2 separate regions of the Homo sapiens genome follow, and region 1 is linked to region 2. Evidence: fine-mapped expression QTL. A gene starts in region 2. The other region holds a variant in brackets. All regions are shown on one strand. Distances are from middle to middle. Region 1 holds the start of RAET1G (retinoic acid early transcript 1G). Region 2 holds the start of RAET1E (retinoic acid early transcript 1E).

Region 1 (11,632 bases), 26 kb after region 2:
CTGGAAGGCAGAGGTTTTGTCCCCTCTGCTATGGGGCAGCCCCTGGGAGAGTTCCTGGGGTAGGAAGGGAGAGGGGGTGTCCCTTGGCCTCAGGGAGCTCACAGAGCTGCTGAGGGAAGCAAGGTGACAGCAAAGCCCACCCTCCTGCTGTGGCGGAAGAGGAGGTGATGCTCCAGGGTGCGGGAGGGGAGGGTCACGAGGCTGGCCTTGGAGGAGGTTTTGATGGATTTCCAGAAACAGACCAGAGGAGGAAAGGAAAAGTGATTCTCAAGAGGGAACACTAAGGAGAAAGGCCTGAAAATAGTGACACCTGCAGTTTCGAGGCTGGTGAGAAATCCACAGTGTGGGGAACAGAAGCAAGTGCAGTGAGGAAGAGGAGTCAGGAGGGAGAAGGAAGAGGAGGGTGGGAGAGCACAGGCACGCCAGCACCCCCAGGAGGAGCACCCCACGAGGAGGTCATTTTAACATAAACGTGTACACTGGGATGATTGAAGCTGAACTCAAGAATTAGTTTCTTGAGATCCCCATTTCTGATCTCATTGGAGATCCCCATTTCTTTTTCTCCTGTTACCTCCTGCACTTGGCTCCAGGGTGCTGTCCATGCCCATCAAGAAGTCCTCAAGCCATCCTGTGCAGTCTCCCATTGAGATGTAATGGAAGGACATGGTCATATCCTTGTCATTCTCCCACTTTTCTTTCATCTTTCTGGCTCCAGGATGAACCGTTGTCCACATTCTGTTTTCTGAGTCAAAGAGGAGGAAGATCTGTCCATCGAAACTGAGCTGCCAAGATCCACTGCCGTGTCCTTCGGCTTTCTGCTCACAAGACATCCTGGCCTGCAGGGTGAGGGGTTCTGCCCCCATCAAAGAGAGATCAGCTCTGGCCTTGACAGATATTGAGCCCCCATCCTCTTCCACTTGCAATTTCCTGGTCTTACTTGCTCTGCCACATCCTGGCCTTGCCTCTAGACGTCTTGCGGGGTGAGATGACCTTCCTATTTGTATTTTTACATGAAAACTATAAATGCCTCTAACCTACCACTGTATCTGCTCCCTGCTGTCCTGGGCCATCTGAAACTTACCCTTGGGTATGTAATTCTCCAGCTGAATGTCAAGCAGTTGCTCTGTAAGTATGTCCACCACCTCTCTCAGTACTGGGTTCTGTGCTTTCCAGGCCGTTGTGACATTTAGTTTCTTCCCCAGGGGACTGACGGGTGTGACTGTCTTGCTGCCACAGTCATAGTGAAGAAAAGTCTTTTCATCCACCTGGCCTTGAACCGCACACCACCGTGGTCCAGGTCTGAACTTAGGGATGACGGTGATGTCATAGCAAAGAGAGTGAGGGTCTGTGGAGAAAGGCAGGTGAGGGGTGGGTGGGGAGGAAAAGACCCCTAGATACCCCTCCTCCACACTGTGACAATAAGAGGAAGCCTCTGGAGGGCTGGGCTGGCCCAGCAAGGAGTGCCTCCTCCAGAACTGTGGTGTCCACAAGATTAAGGCGAGTGCTCCCCACTTCCATGAGGGCAAAGAGGAGGAGGAGGTCCCTGCCTGCTGAGAAACCACATGTCCCCAGACATGTCCCACTGCCCCTCTGTCCACATCGGTCAACACAGGACCTTGCTAGAGAGGTGCCAGGAGTGCTAGAGGAGGAAGGGCCTGGATGACAGAGGATCTTCAGCAGTAGCCCACGTGGACTGTGGGAGGTGGGACAGGGTGTGGGAGCTGCACCTGAGGATACTGGTGCATGGTGGGACGGAGTGAGGATGGAACCCAGTTGGATAAAGAAGAGTTAATTATCATGGTCACAGGATTTAACACGTTGGCAAAGCCCCTGGTGGTGGTGCTCATCTACTATGAGGATGCCTTCCTGAAACCTTGGACAAAGGGATGGTCCACACAGCAAGAAATAGAAAAATCTGAAAATCTAAGGCAGGCAGTAGACGGAGGGATCACAGGCTCAGAGAAGTGCCCAGGCTGGAGGGGTCTGAGTGTGAAAATCCAGAACAATGTCCATCTGCTGTGCTCATGGGAAGCCTGGAGGACTCCTGTTTACCTGGCATATAAAGAAGGCCCCATGAGAAGGCACCAGAATGGGATGAAGCTCAGGGATGCCTATTGCTGAAGGCCAGGGTTGGGGGTAGGAGATGCTCTTCCTGAAATGGGCTCCCAGTAGTAATGGGATGAAAAATCCCGAAATAACAGATTCCAGGTGGAGGTTGTCAACTGTCAGGAACAAGGAGGGTGCAATGATGGAAATGATTAGAGAAGTCACAATGCCAGCTGGAGACCTCAGTCATACAAAGCTATGCCCATGGCTCATAGAACAAAGGGGTCCAAGATCCAGAAGAGATGGAAACCCAACCTGAATAGTGCTGGATTTAAATAATTACAAGAAACAGAGATAAAACAAATGATGGATGACCAGGAGGCTGAAAGTAGCCAGTCCTTCAAGAACAAGGCTGCTTTGCCTAATTTGCAGAATAAAGCCACTTCTCAGACCGTGAACCCATGACTAGAAGAAGACACCAGTTTCCAGTGAGGAAGGACCCTTTAACCCCGCAACAAGTGCAATGATTCTTTGTGGGCTTCTCCAAACGTATTTATGGCCACTAGAGTTTGCTATGAAGGGCAATTTTGTAAACATGTAAAGGTGTGCAGGGAATATATTCTCCATTGTAACTACTCAGCTCTGCTGTTGAAGCGCAAAGGCAGCCACAGGCAATCCATGAATGAGCGAGGCTGGACCTGCCTTAAGTGCCCAATGACCCAAGACCCCCTAAGATCCTAGAGGTGCATGTGGTTCCAATGTCTAATTGGAGAATCACAACATAGATTCCATGTGAATGTTCAGAGGCAAGGCAACGCCACTCACAGCAAGGAAATCTCAACATTAAAAAGTGTCTCCTGTAGAGTACTGGGCCTTGGCAGAGATGGGGCCTTTAGCCATGGAAGGGCCGTGACCATCCAGCCTCAGAGCTGCCCATTACGGGTGGGCTCCTCACCCTCTAGGTCATTAGGAAGAGAGGTCTGGCAGTGAGAAGACACAGGTGGTTCTCCTGGGATGGGCAGAAGTAGGGCCACAGGGAACCGGGAAGCTGCACAAGCAGTTGGCCCCGATTCCCAGGACACCACGTGGCTGCACCCCCTTACCCTCAGCTTACACCTCAGGTTTCAGGGAAGGTCACTGATGGCCCCCGTGGACCATAGATGCCACTCAGCAGCAAAGGAGGGGAGAGTAGACCCTGAACCATGGGACCCCCACTCCCATCACATCCACACCACCCAGAAGCCACAGGCAAGGTAGGACCACCTTCTACTCTCCAACTGACACCTGAGACACCACTTGGAGATGACACCATAGGGGATGGGGTACTATTTGCTGGTACACTGTAATCCCCTCATCTAGGGTCAGCAACCTAGGACAGGGTCCAAATCTGGTCCCCCCTATTTGAAGGTTGCCATTGCCTGCTGTTGCTCTGCAAAGGGACAGGACTGGACACTGAGACGGAGAACCCAAGGCCTGCAAAGATCACAGGGCATCCTTCCTCCCTTTCTAGAAAGGGTTTGCTGACCCCTGTCTACACACTGACTATTCTCTATGATGCTGGCGCCCCAGTAGGAAGAACAGGCAGGTCTGGGCCCCAAGGGCAGAAGTGGGTGCCTCTACTCACCAGAGTTCCCAGGGTCATCCTGGAGGAAATGGTGCTTCCCATCCCCCCTGCACAGGTTCTGTGGGGAGCTTGGGGTGTGTTTGCTGGGGTGTGTCCTCAGGCAAGAGGCAGAAGGTGTCACGTGGTGTAAGAGGTCGCGAGGGCCCCTTCATGGATGGGGAGACCTCTGGGGTGACCAGCTGGGCTGAGGTGGGGAGTAAGAGGATGTTACCTGGGTGGTGGCAGTGGATGGTGAGGGGAGGGTGGGAAGTGTCTGCTGAGCCGCTGGGTGCAGGTGAGTGTCTACAGGAAAGTGCAGGGAAAAATTCAAGGGCACGCAGCCCTGGGGGTGCTGGAAGGTTTGTGTGGTTGAGAGCGGGTGAGAACAGAGCAGGCTGGTGGCTGGTGGGAGTGTCTGTGATTGTGTCCCTGTGCAACCCCACTTCACCCCTGTCCTGACCCCAGCTCGGATTCTGGGGGCTCTGGTTTCTCCTTCCCGAGGGCGGGTGGGACTGCCGGGCTGCACTAGGGATCCCCGCTCCACGTCGCCCTCTGCAGCCCTCTGGCCCCTCCACTCTCCGGGGGTTCCTTTCCAGCCTCCTCTCTGACCAGCTCCTCCCCTCGGAGGATAAGTAGCCTCTGGGAACGGACCCGGCGGGAAGGAGACGCGGAGGGAAACTGAGCGGGGGCGCAGTCCGGGGTGATCGCACGGGTCCTTCCAGAAGCCTCCCCTCCTCTGAAGCCCACAGTCCACAGCCCCCCACGGTTGGCCTCCGCCCCGCTTAGGCTCCATCCCCGAACTCACCGGCCAGCCCGGTCCTGCACCAGCTGGACAGCAGGAGCAGAAGCGGGAGGCGTAGAAGGAACGCGGGGCTGGCGGCCGCTGCCATTGGGGAGTTGGATCGCAGGGGACAGCAGAAGCGAAGCCCAGCCCGTGGATCACCTGGCGGCTCGCAGGCTGTCTGAATGCAGCCCGTCTGAATGCAGCCCTAAACTCCAGTAAGCCCTAAACTCTAGCACTCCTTCTGCCCCGCCCCTCGGAGGAAACACACCCCCTTTGCTGAGCCGCTAGCCAATCAGGTGTCTCTCAGCCAAGTTGCTCATCCAAGTCTACCCCACTTTCTACTGCAGCGCTCGCGCACTTCCCCCTGCTTCAGCCAGTCAGACTTTGCTGGCTGCCTGCCCGGGACCAGTCCTGCCAAAGGCTTCTTTCCATGACCCCCTCATGTAATCATCACCGCAATTTTTTCATTTTGTATTAATCCAATGTGGATACCGATGCACAGAAAGGTGAAGAAAATGCACAGAAGTGTTCAGCCGCGACAGGGTCTCCCTGTCCTCGCCTGTACCTGCGACACCCGCCTTCCCTCTCCCTGCGTTGCAGAGTGCTCCCAACCCACCGTCCTGTGCGCAGATCCAAGCCCAGTCCCATCCCCGCGGCCTCATCCCAAATCCCGAGTGGACGTGGTTATAGCCTGGGCTAGGTTTGTTTGTTTGGTTGGTTGGTTTTTCTTTCTTTTCTTTTTTTTCTTCGTGACAGAGTCTCGCTCTGCCGCCCAGGCTGGAGTGCAGCGGCGCGATCTGGGTTCGCTGCAACCTCTGCCTCGCGAATTCAAACGATTCTCCTGCTTCAGCCTCCCAAGTAGCTGGGACCACAGGTGCGCGCCACCAAGCCCGGTTAAGTTTTGTATTTCAGTGGGGACGGGGTTTCACCATGTTGCCCAGGCTGGCTTTGGACTCCTGGGCTCAAGTGATCGGCCCGACACGGCCTCTCAAAGTGCTGAGATCACAAGGGTGAGCCACCACGCCTGGCCCGGGGCTAGATTTTATTACAGAAGCACCAGGTCTTCAGAAGCTTCAAAGAAGATATTGTACACTAAACAATTGGTTAAGATAGTAAATTTTATGTTCTACTTTTTTACCAAAATTAAACAGCTTTAAAAATTATCTTAAAAATATGTGTCTTGCTGGGATCTGCCCAATTCGGATTGGCAAAAAGACTCTGCTCATTAAAATCTTTGCATTTTAATGCAAAGCATTGAAAACCTTGTCTCTAAAATCACAACCTGTGAGGCACCTTGCTGATTTAGAAAGCACATCAGAGAGATTGACCCTGAGCTCCCCTTAGAACAGTGCCCCACCAGGTGTGGGGATGGCCCAGGGGACTCAGCAGAGCAGGTTCAAATGAAAGCTCCCCATAGCTACTAACTGCCAGCGCTTGCTTTGGGCCTGTTCCCCCTGGGCAAGGACCAGCCATCCTTCCAAGCCGCGCACAAATACCCCCTCCCATGTGTGTCCCTCATCTTCCCACATGAAGGAACACCCTCCTGCTCCCTGAGGCCTGGATCCACAGTGATGGAGCGTATCCGGATCTCCCTGTGTGACAAATGCTCACACATTTCTTTGCTTCTCTACTAGAAGCATGAGGTCTTTGAGACTATACTAGATCTGTGTACAGCTTTTGAGGGAAAAAAGCCCTAGTGGCCTACTGTTGCTCAATTGGAATGTGATCAATTGTGTTTCCCATGGGAGCAGGAGGCAAGGGAGGGGTCTGTGCGTGCGTGGAGCTCACTTTGCAGTACACCCATCTGTGGCCAACCATTGATGCCTGGATCCATGGCTGCACCCACACCTCTGCTCAGTCCCTGGA[C/T]GGTCCCTGCGGCCATCCTCAAAAGGAAACCCCAATTGTATCCTTGTCTTAATTATCATGAGGGCATCTGGAAGTGGTGGCAGAAGCCAGAGACAGGTGAGGGTCCCAGTGGTTCCTGGCAGCTGTGAAGGGCTTAGCTTAGGGTGAGGACTGGACAGAGCCCCTGGGTCCCATTCTGCCCCCAGCCACTCAGGCAATATCCTCTTTTCCCCTTCTCTCTCAGCCTCTTCTCACCCTAGGGCTGTACCCAAAGCTCTGAATGAGACTGTCCCTGCCCCGCCCCATCCACTCCTGGTCCAGCTCAGCAGTGACCTTGGAACTCCAGGAGCAGCTCAGTACCCCTGTCTCCGAGTCAGCTCTGCTCCAGGCAGGGCCAGAATCTGGAGTGTGCAGGAGGCCGGATGGCAGGGGCATTGCCCCAGGACTGAGCCGTATTCTGAGGGTTCCCAGAGACCTGACCTCCTACTTGTATACAGTCTTTTCAGTCAGCGTCTGCCTTAAAGGCTGTGACCCAGGCACCTTCCCTGGGAATTAACTCCAGCATTGTCCTCTGGGTCGACACAGTCCTTGGCAGCCTCTCCTTCCTGGGGTTACACCCAGTTCCTCTGCTCTTCTCCAGTGGATGGAATCTCCTTCTCCTTGACACACAGCATCTGGAGCCACCAATCTGCTGCCCCACTCAAATGTGAGGACCGCACATGCCTGAGCTCCTGCTGTCTGCACACCACGCACCGTGGGGGTTCCTTATGACCAGAGACACAGTCTGAAACAGACCTGAATTTGCTAAACCCTCTAGAGCTCGACAGGACCTAAGCCTTGATATGGTTCTGTGTGCTCCTCCCAGGGCGCCCGCTGTCCCCGAGCTCCGGGCCTGAGTGCTGGCTGGCGGAGACCCACAGTGGGTGCCCCGCTCCCGGACGATGCCCCTGGGCTTCCAGATCCAGAGCCTCGGGACGAAACTGTTTCAGGAAGACCCGGAAGGACTCGCCGGTCGCGGCAAGGGACAGGCGGTTCCTGAGACAGGAGGAGCCAGGAAATGCGGGGCCTGGTGGGGTGAGGAGCACGGGGTTCCTCCTTCATCCTCGCGGGGACTTTGCCACCGGCTCAGTGTGGAGGCCTCACCGTCCCGCCCGGATCCGTGGGGCTCCGACAGTGTGGCCCCTGCGAGGACCCCCCCCATCCTCCTCGCCCTGGGGCTGCTGCGGGAGGGCGCCCGGGCAGCACTAGGTCCTGAGTGTCCAGGGTCCGGCAGGGGCTTCCCGTTGTCGCCTCCCTGACCCCGCCGCTTGCGGTCCAGGGCTGCTGGTTTCTCCGCTGGTCTGGGAGGCCCTAGCATGGACGTCGTGAGGCGGAGAAAACCTTGGGATGGGTGGAAAAGAAGGATTGGAGGGAGGGCGGCAGAAAGGGAGAGGAAGGAAACAGGGCCGGAGAACAATGAGAAACCCCCACCACGAAAATGGGGAGAGGGGGACACGCGCACAGCCCCCACACTCCACCGACTCTCCGTCTCCTGCTCTCTGCCCAGTAAGGAACACAGGCCCCACCCCCTCCACCCTCACTGTGTTTGGGATCAGCCATTTCAGCGGGGTGAGGCGTCCCCTTGTGGGTGCGATTGGCATTTCCCTGAGGGCTGTGAACACTGAACACCTTTTCCTGGGCTCACTGCGATTTGCATTCTTCTTCTGATGCCAGCGGGCAAGGGGAGGTCCCCAAACGCCGGTGGGACCTCGACTCCAGCCAGTGTCCAGATTCTTGATATTGCCGGGGAAATTAATTCAAGGACCAGTAGGAAATAGAGAAAGGACGGAGATTTATTGTAAAAGGCAAAGTACACAGTCAAGTAAAGGGAGTGCAGGGGAACTCGAGAGAGAAGCAGGTGCAAGTTTGGGGCTGCCACCTTTCTGGGTTTCTTTAACCAAGGAGTGGAATATTCATGAAAATTCCTGGAAGAAGGTAGAGATTTCTCAGAACTGTGGTGCCCCGCATTTTTACACTAAATATAAGTGTTCTCAGAACTGCTCAGGAGCTGGCTGGTGTGTGTTTAGTATGTTAATCAGCATGTAATGAGGTCCTAGGTGAAACCTAGGTCAAATGCAGGGCCTTGTTGGGTCCAGTCATTCTTAGCCAGCTTGGTCCACATGCTGTTTTTCAGCATCTTATCAGCCCAGAGCCTCTGCACATATTTCAACAGATTCCTTTTGCTAGTCACCTGAAACTGCTGCCCAAAATTTTCTATTCTTTTGAGACCACCGTGTAGTATACCTGTCTTACTTTGGAGAAATGTCTATTCAAATTCCTTGCATATATTTAAATTGGGTTATTTCACTTTATAATGTTGAGTTGCAACATTATATATTATATATAATATATAATTGCAATTATATTTTGTTGCAATATTATATATTCAGAATACCAGTCCCTTACCTGATATATGATTTTTATTTTATTTTTTAAAATTTATTTATTTATTTATTTTTTAATTTTTAAATAATTTTTAAAAATTATACTTTAAGTTCTAGGGTACATGTGCACAACGTGCAGGTTTGTTACGTAGGTATACTTGTGCCATGTTCGGTTGCTGCACCCATCAACTCGTCATTTACATTAGGTATTTCTCCTAATGCTATCCCTCCCCCAGCCCCTCACCTCCCAATAGGGCCCAGTGTGTGATGTTCCCCGCCCTGTGTCCATGTGTTCTCATTGTTCAACTCCCACCTATGAGTGAGAACATGTGGTGTTTGGTTTTCTGTCCTTGTGATAGTTTGCTTAGAATGATCGTTTCCAGCTTAATCCATGTCCCTGCAAAGGACATGAACTCATCCTTTTTTATGGCTGCATAGTAGTCTGTGTTGTATATGTGCCACATTTTCTTAATCCAGTCTATCATTGATGGACAACTCTTTGCTATTGTGAATAGTGCCACAATAAACATATATGTGCATGTGTCTTTACAGTAGCATGATTTATAATCCTTTGGGTATATACCCAGTAATGGGATTGCTGGGTCAAATGGTATTTCTAATTCTAGATCCTTGAGGAATCACCACACTGTCTTCCACAATGGTTTAACTAATTTACACTCCCACCAACAGTGTGAAAGCGTTCCTCTTTCTCCACATCCTCTCCAGCATCTGTTGTTTCCTGACTTTTTAATGATTACCATTCTAACTGGTGTGAGATGGTATCTCATTGCGGTTTTCATATGCATTTCTCTGATGGCCAGTGATGATGACCATTTTTTCGTATGTCTGTTGGCGGCATAAATGTCTTCTTTTGAGAAGTGTCTGTTCATATCCTTTGCCCACTTTTTGATGGGGTTGTTTTTTTTTTCTTGTAAATTTGTTTAAGTTCTCTGTAGATTCTGGATGTTAGCCCTTTGTCAGATGGGTAGATTGCAAAGATTTTCTCCTATTCTGTAGGTTGCCTGTTCACTCTGATGATAGTTTCTTTTGCTGTGCAGAAGCTCTTCAGTTTAATCAGATCCCATTTGTGTACTTTGCCTTTTACTGCCATTGCTTTTAGTGTTTTAGTCATGAAGTCTTTGCCCATGCCTATGTCCTGAATGGTATTGCCTAGGTTTTCTTCTAGGGTTTTTATGGTGTTAGGTCTAACATTTAAGTCTTTAATCCATCTTGAGTTAATTTTTGTATAAGGTATAAGGAAGGGATCCAGTTTCAGCTTTCTACCTATGACCAGCCAGTTTTCTCAGCACCATTTATTAAATAGGGAATCCTTTCCCCATTGCTTGTTTTTGTCAGATCAAAGACCAGATGGTTGTAGTTGTGTAGTGTTATTTCTGAGGCCCCTGTTCTGTTCCATTGGTCTATATATCTGTTTTGGTACCAGTACCATGCTGTTTGGTTACTGTAGCCTTGTAGTATAGTTTGAAGTCAGGTAGAGTGATGCCTCCAGCTTTGTTCTTTTGGCTTAGGATTGTCTTGGCTCTGCAGGCTTTCTTTTGGTTCCATATGAAGTTTAAAGTAGTTTTTCCAATTCTGTGAAGAAAGTCAGTGGTAGCTTGATGGGGATAGCATTGAATCTATAAATTACCTTGGGGAGTATGGCCATTTTCACAATTTCCTATCTATGAGTATGGAATGTTCTTCCATTTGTTTGTGTCCTCTTTTATTTAGTTGAGCAGTGGTTCATAGTTCTCCTTGAAGAGGTCCTTCACATCCCTTGTAAGTTGGATTCCTAGGTATTTTATTCTGTTTGTAGCAATTGTGAATGGGAGTTCACTCATGATTTGGCTCTCTGTTTGTCTATTATTGGTGTAAAGGAATGCTTGTGATTTTTGCATGTTTATTTTGTATCCTGAGACTTTGCTGAAGTTGCTTGTCAACTTTCCGCCAACAACCACACAGTCTGCTCCCACACACTCTCTACCACACAAGCCCTCCAGCACCCCCAGGGTTCTCTGCCCTTGATCTTTCCCCTGCACTTTGCTGCAGACACTCACCTGCACCCAGGGGCTCACCAGACATTTTTCACCCCTCTCCTCACCATTCACTGCCACCACCCAAGTCACATCCTTTAGTTCCCCATCTCAGCCTGGCACTTTTACCCACACAAACCTCACTCACCTCTCCATCCATGAAGGGTCCTCACCACTTTCTCCAGCAACCAGGGGGACCCAGGACCCACTTACCAGGAATCCAGAGTCTTTTTCAGACCCACAGAGGATGATTCTTCTGTGTAGCACTAGGTGAGCCTGACATAATTTAAGTGGTGGTTGGAGGCTGAGGGAACGGCTGAATGAATGAGAGTTGTGGGAGTGAATGGGCTCAGAAGAAAACCCCAGGTGCAGAAGGGGAGCTGCAGTGGATGCTGTAGCCCCCAGAGGCCTGAAGGTGGCGGTACCGTGGTTGGAGACCTCCAGGCTGGGCAGAATTTGGAAATATGTGTAGTCACCTGGGTGCCCACAGAGTTTTTCCAAAGAGGAGAAATTTTGGCTTACAACAGGTATAGAGCTCCATCAGCATAGAATCTTTTAATAAACTTGTTGATCACAGGACAGGAAATTGCTGTCTTCAGCCCATTTGATTGAGACCAGAGTGTACTCAGGACAGAAAAATCCTAACCAGAGCCATTGGCAAGTGAAGGAAAGAAAAGGCGTTCAAATAGGAAAAGAAAAAGTCAAACATGTCTCTTTGCCAGTGATGTGATTCCATACATAGTAAACCCTAAAGACCCTGTCGGAAGGCTCCTGGAACTGACATATCAATTCAGTAAAGTTTCAGGATACAAAATCAATGTACACAATCAAGAGCATTCTTATACACCAATAATATTCTAGCTGAGAATGAAAGCAAGAACACAATCGCATTTACAAA
Region 2 (11,632 bases):
TGTGTCTTTATAGCAGCATGATTTATAATCCTTTGGGTATATACCCAGTAATGGGATCACTGAGTCAAATGGTATTTCTCGTTCTAGATCCGTAAGGAATTGCCACACTGTCTTCCACAATGTTTGAACTAATCTACACTCCCACCAACAGTGTAAAAGTGTTTCTATTTTTCCACAACCTCTCCAACATCTGTTATTTCCTGACTTTTTAATGAACGTCATTCTAACTGGCGTGAGATGGTATCTCATTGTGGTTTTGATTTGCATTTCTCTAACGACCAGTGATGATGAGCATTTTTTCATATGTCTGTTGGCTGCATAAATATCTTCTTTGGAGAAGGGTCTGTTCATATACTTTGCCCATTTTTTGATGGGGTTGTTTTTTTTCTAGTAAATTTGTTTAAGTTCTTTGTAGATTCTGGATATTAGCCCCTTGTCAGATGGATAGATTGCAAAAATCTTCTCCCATTCTGTAGGTGGCCTGTTCACTCTGATGATAGTTTCTTTTGCTGTGCAGAAGCTCTTTAGTTTAATTAGATCCCATTTGCCAATTTTGGCTTTTGTTGCCAGTGCTTTTGGTGTTTTAGAAAGGAAGTCTTTGCCCATGCCTATATCCCGAATGGTATTGCCCGGGTTTTCTTCTAGGATTTTTATGGTCCTATGTCTTATGTTTAAGTCTTTGATCCATCTTGAGTTGATTTTTGTATAAGGTGTAAGGAAGGGGTCCAGTTTCAGTTTTCTGCATATGGCTAGCCAGTTTTCCCAACACCATTTATTAAACAGGGGATCTTTTCCCCATTGCTTGTGTGTGTCAGGTTTGTCAAAGATCAGATGGTTGTAGCTGTGTGGTGTTATTTCTGAGGCCTCCATTCTGTTCCATTGGTCTATATATTTGGTACCAGCACCATGCTATTTTGGTTACTGTAGACTTGTAGTATAGCTTGAAGTCAGGTAGCACGGTGCCTCCAGCTTTGCTCTTCTTGCCCAGGATTGTCTTGGATATGCAGCCTCCTTTTTGGTTCCATATGAAGTTTAAAGTAGTTTTTTCCAGTTCTGTGAAGAAAGTCAGTGGTAGCTTAATGGGGATAGCATTGAATCTATAAATTACTTTGGGCAGTATGGCCATTTTCACGATATTAGTGCTTCCTATCCATGAGCATGGAATGTTTTTCCATTTGTTTATGTCCTCTCTTATTTCCTTGAGCAGTGGTTTGTAGATCTCCTTGAAGAGGTCCTTTACATCCCTTGTAAGTTGTATTCCTAGGTATTTTATTCTCTTTGTAGCAATTGTGAATGGGACTTCACTCATGATTTGGCTGTCTGTTTGTCTGTTATTGTTGCATAGGAATGCTTGTGATTTTTGCACATTGATTTTGTATCCTGAGACTTTGCTGAAGTTGCTTGTCAGCTTAAGGAGATTTTGGGCTGAGATGATGGAGTTTTCTAAATATACAATCATGTCATCTGCAAACAGAGACAATTTGACTTCCTCTTCTCTTGTTTGAATGTACTTTATTGCTTTCTCTTGCCTGATTGCCCTGGCCAGAAGTTCCAATACTATGTTGAATAGGAGTGGTGAGAGAGGGCATCCTTGTCTTGTGCTGATTTTCAAAGGGAACGCTTCCAGTTTTTGCCCATTCAGTATGATATTGGCTGTGGGTTTGTCATAAATAGCTCTCATTATTTTCGGATATGTTCCATCAATACCTAGTTTATTGAGAGTTTTTAGCATGAAGTGGTGTTGAATTTTATCAAAGTTCTTTTCTGCATCTATTGAGATAATCATGTGGTTTTTGTCATCGGTTCTGTTTATGTGATGGATTACGTTTATTGACTTGTGTATGTTGAACCAGCCTTGCATCCCAGGTATGAAGCCAACTTGATCGTGGTGGATAAGCTTTTTGATGTAATGCTGGGTTCGGTTTGCCAGGATTTTTGCATCAATGTTCATTAGGGATATTGGCCTGAAATTTTATTTTTTTGTTGTGTCTCTGCCAGGTTTTGGTATCAGGATGATGCTGGCCTCATAAAATGAGTTAGGGAGGATTCCCTCTTTTTCTATTGTTTGGAATAGTTTCAGAACTCCTCTTCTTGAGGAGTATCTTTGTGATGTTCTCTGTATTTCCTGAATTTGAATGTTGGCCTGCCTTGCTAGGTTGGGGAAGTTTTCCTGGATAATAACCTGAAGAGTGTTTTCCAACTTGGTTCTATTCTCACTGTCACTTTCAGGTACACCAATCAAATGTAGATTTGGTCTTTTCACATAGTACCACATTTCTTGGAGGCTTTGTTCATTCCTTTTTATTCTTTTTTCTCTAATCTTGTCTTCTCTCTTTATTTCATTAAGTTGATCTTCAATCACTGATATCCTTTCTTCCGCTTGATTGATTTGGCTATTGATACTTGAGTATTCTTCACAAAGTTCTCATGCTGTTTTTTAGCTCCATCAGGTCATTTATGTTCCTCTCTACATTGGTTATTCTAATTAGCAATTCGACTAACCTTTTTTCAAGGTTCTTATCTTCCTAGCATTTGTTAGAACATGCTCCTTTAGCTTGGAGTTGTTTGTTATTATTCACCTTCTGAAGGCTACTTCTGTTAGTTCGTGAAACTCATTTTCTGTCCAGTTTTGTTCCATTGCTGGCGAGGAGTTGTGATCATTTGGAGGAGGAGAGGCGTTCTTGTTTTTGGAATTTTCAGGCTTTGCGCACTGGTTTTTTCCTATCTTTGTGGATTTATCCACCTTTGGTCTTTAATGTTGGTGACCTTCAGATGGGGTCTTTGAGGGGACGTGCTAATCCTTTCTGTTTGTTTCTTTTCCTTCTAACCATCAGGCCCCTCTGCTGCCAGTCTGCTGGAGTTTGCCGGTGGTCCACTCCCAACCCTGTTTACCTGGGTATCACCAGCGGAGGCTGCAGAGCAGCTAAGATTGCTGCCTGTTCCTTCCTCTGGAAGCTTTGACCCAGTGGGGCACCTGCCAGATGCCAGCCAGAGCTCTCCTGTATGAGGTGTCTGTCGGCCCCTACTGGGAGGTGTCTCCCAGTCAGTATACGTGGGTGTCAGGCACCCACTTGAGGAGGCAGTCTGACCCTTAGCAGAGCTCGAATGCTGTGCTGGGAGGTCTGCTGCCCTCTTCAGAGCCATCAGGCGGGGACATTTAAGTCTGCTATAAGCCCCTGATTGGGGCTGCTGCCTTGTTTACCAACATGCCCTGACCAGAGAGGAGAAATCTGGCAGTCTGGCCATAGCAGCCTTGCTGAGCTGCAGTGGGCTCCGCCCAGTTCCAACTTCCCAGCAGTTTTGTTTACACTGTGACCTTAAAACCATTTCCTCAAGCCTCAGCAACGGCAGAGGTCCTTCCAGATGAGTTTTGTAATAGACTCCAGCAGTCCTACTGGGGCCAAGACCTCAAGGAAAGCCAAGTCTATCATTGGGAAAAGTCTTAGGGCTCTAAGTTTTGAATTCTGAAAATTTTTCTTAGAACAAAATTTTGTGTCATTTTCAAATAAAGCACAAGTTTTCCTCATAAAACTTAGTATCTGTAGACCCCCTTCCCACCTCACTTTTACAGCTGTCCCATTTGATCATCAGACCCTGCTACCTTAGCCAGTTCAGGCTGCTACAACAGAATAGACAAGGTGGCTGAAACACCAAGCATTTATTTCTTACCTTCCTGGAAGATGGGAAGTCCAAGATCAAGGTGTCAGCAGGTCCGGTATCTGGCGAGGGCCCTCTCTTCCTCACCAGATGGCTGTCTTCCTGTTGTATCCTCACACAGTGGAGAGCAGAGACAGACAGCAAGCTCTCCTATCACTTCTTAATCCCACATGGCTCCACTCACATGAGTTATGACTTCCTAAATAGCATCACCTTGAGAATTAGGATTTCTGCATATGAATTTGGAAGGCAGGCAAACATGCGGCCTGTAACACCACCCATATCCGTTCCACATCTAGGTTCCCTCTGTGTGCCGGGCAGTATGCCAGTTAATTCAAGTGCATGTCAGACCCAGAGGGTGACATCCTGTGACTCAGATGCTAGGGCCCTTATGATGCCTGGTAAGGTAAGTGGGTCTTTACCACTGTCCTTTCTTAACTAGATGGAACAGACTTCAAAGAAAGTAACCATGGACTATCGGCAGGGCTCTATCTCTGGGGCTGGGGGATAAGGGGTTGTCTGCTCAGAGGACAGTGGGTCAAGCGTTTGAAGGAGCCGAGGAATGCACATTTTTTACATGTCCCCTATGTGGTTCTCTGTCTGCTAAGGTTAAAGAACCTCAATTTTGAGGGTGCACTTCCACCTCTTGGTCTGGAGAAGGGGTCTCAAATCTGTCCTGAGTGGAGCCTGTTCTGTACACATCCAGGCCCTGAGAGTACACAGAGAGGAACTCACTGCTACCGCCCTGCCAATACTGCTGCTGTGGGGACACCAGCGGGGGTGGGCCAAGAACAGAGTGTATGTGTGTGTTTGTGTGTGTGTGTGTGTGTGTGCATGGGTGCTTGTGTGTGTGTGCGTGCATATGTGTGATATGACCACTGAGTAGCTCCTTAGCAGGGCCAATATTTTCTACAAGTCTGATGACTCACAGGAAGGAGCACACCAGGCCTATACTTGGGTCCTGACATCTGGGATGCCAACCTAACACTGAAGAAAAAGAAAGAGCTGCAGACAGGCTGGGAAAAATATACAGAAAGGGGAAAGGGGCCCTTCCACCTTTGTTGCCCTCTGTGGTCCTGAATCTCAGCTTGGCCTGAGCCAACCTGAAGATGGGAAGGAATAGCCATTTTCCAACTGCAAAATGTCAGCTTCAGGCAATGGTTTCAAAACTGAAGTAATGGTTACATATGAAGTAGATTTTTGTTTGTTTTGTTTTTTGAGACCAGGTCTTGCTCTGTCATCCAGGTGGAGTGCAGTGGCATGAGCACGGCTCACTGCAGCCTTGAACTCCCAGGCTCAATCAGTCCTTCCACTTCAGCCTCCAGAATAGCTGGCACTACAGGCATGAGCCACCACACCCAGCTAATTTTTAAATTTTTGGTGTGGAGATGGGGTCTCATCACGTTGCCCAGGCTGATCTCGAACTCCTGGGCTCAAACAATCCTCCCCCCTCAGCCTCCCAAAGTGTTGGGATTACAGGAGTGAGCCACCACACCCGGCTGAAATGGAATTTTAATTGAAGTAAGAAGCGGGTGATAAGGAAAGTGAAACCAATAATTTCACATAGTCCCTGGAAGCCCGTTGCTATAAAGAACTTTCAGCCTGAAGTCCAAAGAGAGACGAAAATTTTAAAATGAATTGGACTGCAGTTTTCAATCCCTGAAAATGAGTCACAGCCTTTTTGTGGCAGTGTGCCCTGGGCTTCTAACCGTCCTCTCCCTGCCCCAGCTGCCTTGAGGTCCCGGCCAATGGTTTCAACACTCAGGCTAGGAATGCCAAGGCCCGGCAGAGCGAGGCTGTGGAAGCCTTGGCATAAGCGGAAGGGAGGATCTGAGGGAGAATGGGACAAGAGAAGTCGGAAAGAAGGAGTTAGGGCAGGAGAACAAGGAGAAATCCCTGTCCCCCAAATTGGAGAGAGGGGCGATTGGGACTCCAGACTGGAAGGAGGCACGGATCCCTGAGTGCTTGGTGTGGAGGCAGAGGACCCGCAGAGCCACCCCGTCCTCCCTGCCTTATCCAGCGTCCCCGCCGCCACACCCCCAGCATCTCCCCCAACCCCACTTTTACTTCATTATCTGCCCCTGGTTCTCTCACCACTCGAGCCCCTGCTTTCCTCCTTCACTCCCAAACATGCACACGTTCCCTCTGCACGGGTGTTTGGAACACCAGCCATCCCCCACCCCCTACCTTGTGCCAGCAGGAGATGTTTGTCCTTCTGCCGTCTCTAGGATGGAGAGGCCTGAGGTGACTGCTTCCTCAGAGTCTCTGTGCAAACTCTCTGAGGAGCAGAAACCAGTTCAGTCTCTCTGGGTGTGGAGAGGCCGGCCTAGCAGAACACCCGTCCACCATGCAAACCGGGTGGGGCCACCTGTCAACTGTCACGTGTGAGTGATTCTAGGACAGGGTAACTCGTCCAGAATTGGATCCAATTCAGTACTGGATTCACCATCAGTAGAAGGACCAAGACCAGACTCAAGTCCCAGCCACGAAATTCTAGAAAGGATTTAATGTAATTTTAGCAGTTGTTGGAGACCAGCATGTGATGGCATACATATGTTTTCCTTGATATGTAGGTGGGGGCCCCCACCTTTTTTCAGGGTTTAGGCTTCTGCAGGTCCTGGCATAGCTGTGACAGCGGCCCTACCTCATTTCTGGTGGGTGCTGGCTCCCTCTATTGCTTGGTTTCTGTGCAAACACTGCATTATCGTCCTGCCCTCTTGAGACCTGGAGCTCCTGCCCCCTGAGCTCGTGTTCGCACTGTGTGTCACTGAACCTCGCTGTTTTCTTCTTGCAACTCCATTCCCCTCTGCAACTGGAAGACCAGCACTTCTCCTGAGTCTTCCTTAAAAGACACCCTGCCCACTTCCTTACAAAGCCCCCACCAAAGTGACACCAGCTACTTGTGAATGTAGCCAACTTTACTGAAGATTTAGAGGTTATGTTATAAGGCTGTGAATAATTTAAAAAAAAAATCACCTATTTGCTCGACCTCTTTCTTATCTCTTCTTTGGACTAGAAATAAAATATCTATGATTTGACCACACTGTCATCTAGTACTCGACCCTGGTTCTAGGCCACCGTCCTCCTGGCCAGGGTGATTGCAGTGCTGCCCTACTTGGTTCTCCGTGCCTGTCCCCACCTCCCAAATGGCTACAGCGCAGCCAGAGTGATCTTCAGAACCTCATCACTCACGCCCCCCTCTGCTCCAATTCTCCAAAAGTGCCCTTTTTCTCTCAGTAAAACCAAAGTCACTACAGATGCCTAGAGAGCCCTGCACAGTCTGGCCAGCTGTCCATTATGCCCCCTCACTCGCTCAGTTCCGACCTCCACCCTCGGCCTCCTTGCTGGTCTTCAGAGCCCTGCAGATGTCCCCGTGCCTTGGGACTTTGCATTGCCCTCCCTTCAGCATGGACTGCCCTTCAGGCATCTGCCCGGCTCACTCCCACTCCTGCTCCCAGGTGGCACACCCTTCCACGCCTGGTTCTCCCTGCCCCTCGCATTTGGAACCCTTGTATTTCTTTCTTTCTTTCTTTTTTTAAAATTGTGGTATGATTCATGTAACGTGATTTTTCATCTTAACCACTGTTAAATGTAAAGGCCTCTATTTCATAATGGGAGACCTCTGCCTGCCCAGGCCATCCTGGACCTTCTTCACCTGAACTTGTTCCCCTAAAGCAATGACCACTTTAAAACATACCTTAGTAAGCCGCGCACAGTGGCTTACACCTGTAATCCCAGCATTTTGGGAGGTCAGGGAGGCTGGATCACCTGAGGTTGAGTTTGAGACCAGCCTGGCCAACATGTTGAAACCCTGTCTCTACTAAAAATAAGAGAATTAGCCGGGTGTGGTGGCCAGTGCCTGTAATCCCATCTACTCAGCTTATTGAGTCAGGAGAATCACTTGAAGCCAGGAGGCGGAGGTTGCAGTGAGCCGAGATCACGCCACTGCTTTGCAGCCTGGGCAACAGAATGAGACTCTATCCCTATAAACAAACAATCAAACAAACCTTATTAACTTTTAATTGTGGTTGCAACAAATTACTGCAAATTTAGTGCCTTAAAACAACATACATTCATTCTTTTACCATTCTGGAGCTCAGAAGTCTGAATAGTCTCACGGAGCTATCATCACTGTGCTGTCAGGGCTGTGTTCCTTTGGGAGGCTCTCGGGGAGAACCTGTCTCCTCCTTGCCTTTTCCAGCTGCTCAACTGCCCACGTCCATGGCTCAGGACCCCATTTCCTCATCTTCAAAGGCAGCTCCACCAGGCTGAGTCCTGGTTTACATGAGAACACTACCCCTCCATGGCTGGTTTTCCCAGGGCAGCTGATTAGCCACCTCAGCTCCATCCACAGCTTTCACCGCCCTTTCCATGTACCCCAACACAGAGGTTCCAGGGACTGGATCTGCCATCCTGAGGATTGGAGAGGGAATTCTTCTGCCCAACACACATACCATATAATTTACATATCTATCCATTTAAAATTTCTATCTCTTACTAGAATGCCATTTCTGTGAAGACAAAAACCTCATACAAGGCACAGAAAACAGCTCCCCAGGGGTGAAGGGGCTCAGATGGGCCCCCTGGCTCAGGGAACAAGGAGAGGTGTCAGGGCAGCCTCCCTGGGTCTCCAGCCTTCACAGCCGGTGCCTCCCAGGCAGGTTCCAGCCACAGCAGCAGCAAAAGAGATGTGGTGGGCAGCATCAGGCATTGGCGAGATTCCTGACACAGTTCAGTCGAAAAGAAACTTCCTAAACTGAGCTCACCTCAAGGAAGCTGGAGATAAATGCCACCTTACCCAATGGGTACATGAAATACAAATACAAATCCTTTTCCAGGTTGTGCAGGTTACAACTGGCCCAATTCTATGCCTGGTCCCCTGCCCTGTCCTGCTGTGACTTGCCAGGGTGGGGTGCTCATTGGCCTCCAGGCTCCACTCACTTTTCTGACCGCACCCAGTTTCCACCTCCAAGTCACCCCCCAGACTGCTTCTCCTTTTGCTGTTTTTTCTCAGCCCAGCAGAAATTCTAATATTCGCCAGGCTTGGCCCTGCTCAGGGCACCGGAGAAGGAGCCTCTGAGGAAAATCTTGGCACAAGGAGCAGCTCTCCCACCTGGATTTCCAGCACCCTCTGTTTTCTGGGAACTCCTGAATTTCTCTGGCCATTGGCACAGGGGCTCTGCCACGCAGTTCCCCTGGCGGCTGGCCCCTGACATCTGGCAAAGAGTTAGGAATGCAGGTGTTTCTGGCAAATATGTAGGGCCTATGAGATAAGAAAGTGGGGGAAGCAAGATCACGTAGGTTCTCTGTGAGAGAGGCCGCATGCCCAGCAGGACAGAACATCCCTGGCTGACAAGGGCCATCTTCCCCTGTCCTTATCTCTGCCTGGGCTCCAGCTCCGTCCTGCCTGACAGAGGCCGTGGAGCAGAGCACTGGGCTGCTGGTCAATGTCCTGGTCTTTAGATAGACCAGTCTCCGGATGGGGTCACAGTGGGAGAGCAGTGGGCCTGGGAGGTGCAGGGTTAGTGCAGGGCAGGGCTGCCTTGAATCTGCAGGTGCGGGGCCACCAGGCTGGACCTATCTGTATGCTCAGCACAGGAGGTTGCAGTATTGCCTGCCCTCAACCTCCTTTTCCTATTTCTGCTGCTAGAGGGCACTGGGGACTGGGGTCAGGCTGGGGGTCTTGCCATCCCCTCCTGATCTCCTCCACTCCCTGTCCACAGCTCCTGATTTCCCTGCCTGGGCTGCCCCCACCAGAAGTCTCCAGGCCTAAAATCCAGTAGGAACAGGCAGCCTAGCCTGTCCCCAGGGGTTTCTTTAGCACTTGCAGGAGTCAATAAGGCTTCAGGTAGGAAGGCCTGATGCCTTCCTCATCCACAGACGCCTAACAGGTGTTTCTGGAAATGTATCCTGTGGCAGCCAAAGAGGCTGGACTCCTCAGTGTGTTTCCAAACAGAGCCAAACACAGAGTTCATCGGTTGGAGGAGCCCAATCAGCTGCTCATTAGTGTGCCTTTGACAAGCCTTTGTACGGCGGGGAGGAAAAATGATTTTCATGAAAAAAACAAACAAACAGGAGTTTATTATCTATCTATCTATCTATCTATCTATCTATCTATCTATCTATCTATCTATCTATCTATCTATCGTCTCTTGTATATACACAGGAAACACCTGGAGAAAACAAGTAATCCTTAAAGTGCTGGCTTAGAGCTCCAGCATCTTCAACAGAAAACAATAAACGTCTAGAGAAGTGGCAGATCATGGGAAGGCCAATCTATGGCATCAGAGAAGCTTGTGGTGCCTCTGCTGCTGTCCCTAGGCCTGACAAGAGTCTGAAATTGTCTTTGGTGATCAACCTTTGTCCTTTCTGGTAGAGAAGGGAGGATACAATCAAAAGTGGCTCAATAATAACTGGAAAATAAATGGAAAAGAAAGATGTTCATTTCATCCAGGTTCTTGAATTCATTGACATACGGTTGTACATAGTATTCCCTTATAATCCTTTTTGTTTCTGTAAAGTTGGTAGGGATGTTTCTTCTTTCATTCCTGGTATTAGTCATTTGAGTTTTATCCCTCCACCATTTACCTAGTCATTCTAGGTTAAGGTTTGACAATTTGGTTGATCTTTTCAAAGAACCAACTTTTGGTTTTATTGAGTTTGCCAATGTTTTTCTATTCTTTATTTCATTTATTTACACTCCAATTTTTATTTCCTTCCATTTGTTATTTGGGGCTTAGGTCGCTTTGCTCTTTGAGTTTCTTAAAGTGAAATATCAAGTTATTAATTTGACATAATCCTTTCTTTGTCCTGTTCTTTCTCAGTATACTGGCATTTACAGCAGTAAGTTTTCCTTTAAGTGCTGCTTTATCTGCTTCTTATAAATCATAGTATGCTGTGTATTTGTTTCCATTCATCTCAAAGTATTTTCTAATTTTCCTTGTGAGTTTCCCTTTCGTTGATTGGTTCTTAGAATGTTTATAAAATTGTTTGTCTTAAAGATGATTCTGCCTGATATTATTAATAGCAATTTCAGTTGTCTTTGTTTACTATGGATGTGTTTTATCTTTTCCATATGTCTACTTTTAAACTACTTGTATCTTGGGATCTACATTGTATCTTTAGATCATTTTTTAAATGCATTCTGAGAATCTTTGCTTTTTCTTTTGAATGTTTATCACTTTGACATGTAAGGGAATTACTGCTAAGGTGGAACAGAATTTACGTCTGCCACCTTTTTCTTAGTTTTCCATATGCACTATGTCATTTTCTTCATCTTTTCCACCACTATTGCTTTGTTTTGTGTTAAACAGATATTTTCTACTGCATCATTTTACTTCCTTTATTGTCTCTTTTTCATTTTTTATTTAAAAAAGTTATTTTGTTAGTCATTTCAGGGGATTCCAATTAATATCTTAATTTACCACAACCTAGATCATATTAAAACCAACTTAATTTTAACAGGATGCAAAATCTCTGCTCCAATATTGCTCTGCTTCTTCCCCCATCTTTGTGGTATAAAAATGATATATACATAAATTATATGGCATGTGTTTTGCAAAGAATAATCACCTGCCACCCCCACCCACTCCCGCCAATCCCAGAGGATGCCGGTGTGAATCCCTGGAACCCCCCACTGGGTTATATGGAAAAGGGAGTGAAGGCTACAGATGGAGTTGAGGTTGCTCATCATCTGCCCCGGAAACGGGGTGATTTTCTGGATTTCCCTGGGGTTCCAATGTAATCACAGGATCTTTATAGAGGAAGAGGCAGACGGAAGAGGGAGAACCAGATGAGGGGCACAGTGAGGACTTAATCTGATGGAACTGCCTTTGAAGATGGGGAAATGGGCCCTGAGCCATGGATGTGGGCAGTTGGAGAAGCTGGAAAAGGGGAGAAGGAGACAGGTTCTCCCCGAGAGTCTCCTGAAATAACAGCCCTGACAACACAGTGATGTTAGCCCATTGAGATCCAT

Evidence for each region. PIP is the estimated chance that this variant, and not a neighbour inherited with it, causes the effect. A credible set is the group of variants that fine-mapping cannot tell apart.
Region 1: its variant is the best candidate, but not a certain one, in a credible set for the expression of RAET1E in nasal epithelium (TOPMed, PIP 0.60).

What each region holds. Positions count from the first base shown.
Region 1 is chr6:149,918,472-149,930,103 of GRCh38, forward strand. It overlaps RAET1G (retinoic acid early transcript 1G), which reads right to left and starts at 4,650. Exons shown (of 5, transcript NM_001001788.4): 1 at 4,455-4,650; 2 at 1,082-1,345; 3 at 572-853. The coding sequence starts at 4,539. RAET1E-AS1 (RAET1E antisense RNA 1) reads left to right here. Exons shown (of 2, transcript NR_045126.1): 2 at 716-1,037. RefSeq lists enhancers at 6,846-7,381, 7,382-7,916 and a silencer at 7,847-7,926. The variant C/T (reference allele first, on the strand shown) is at 6,300.
Region 2 is chr6:149,892,177-149,903,808 of GRCh38, forward strand. RAET1E (retinoic acid early transcript 1E) reads right to left here and starts at 5,937. Exons shown (of 6, transcript NM_001394057.1): 1 at 5,845-5,937; 2 at 3,670-3,856. It overlaps RAET1E-LRP11 (RAET1E-LRP11 readthrough), which reads right to left and starts at 3,954. Exons shown (of 15, transcript NR_182438.1): 1 at 3,670-3,954. All of the region lies in intron 1 of RAET1E-AS1 (RAET1E antisense RNA 1), which reads left to right. RefSeq lists a silencer at 6,197-6,491.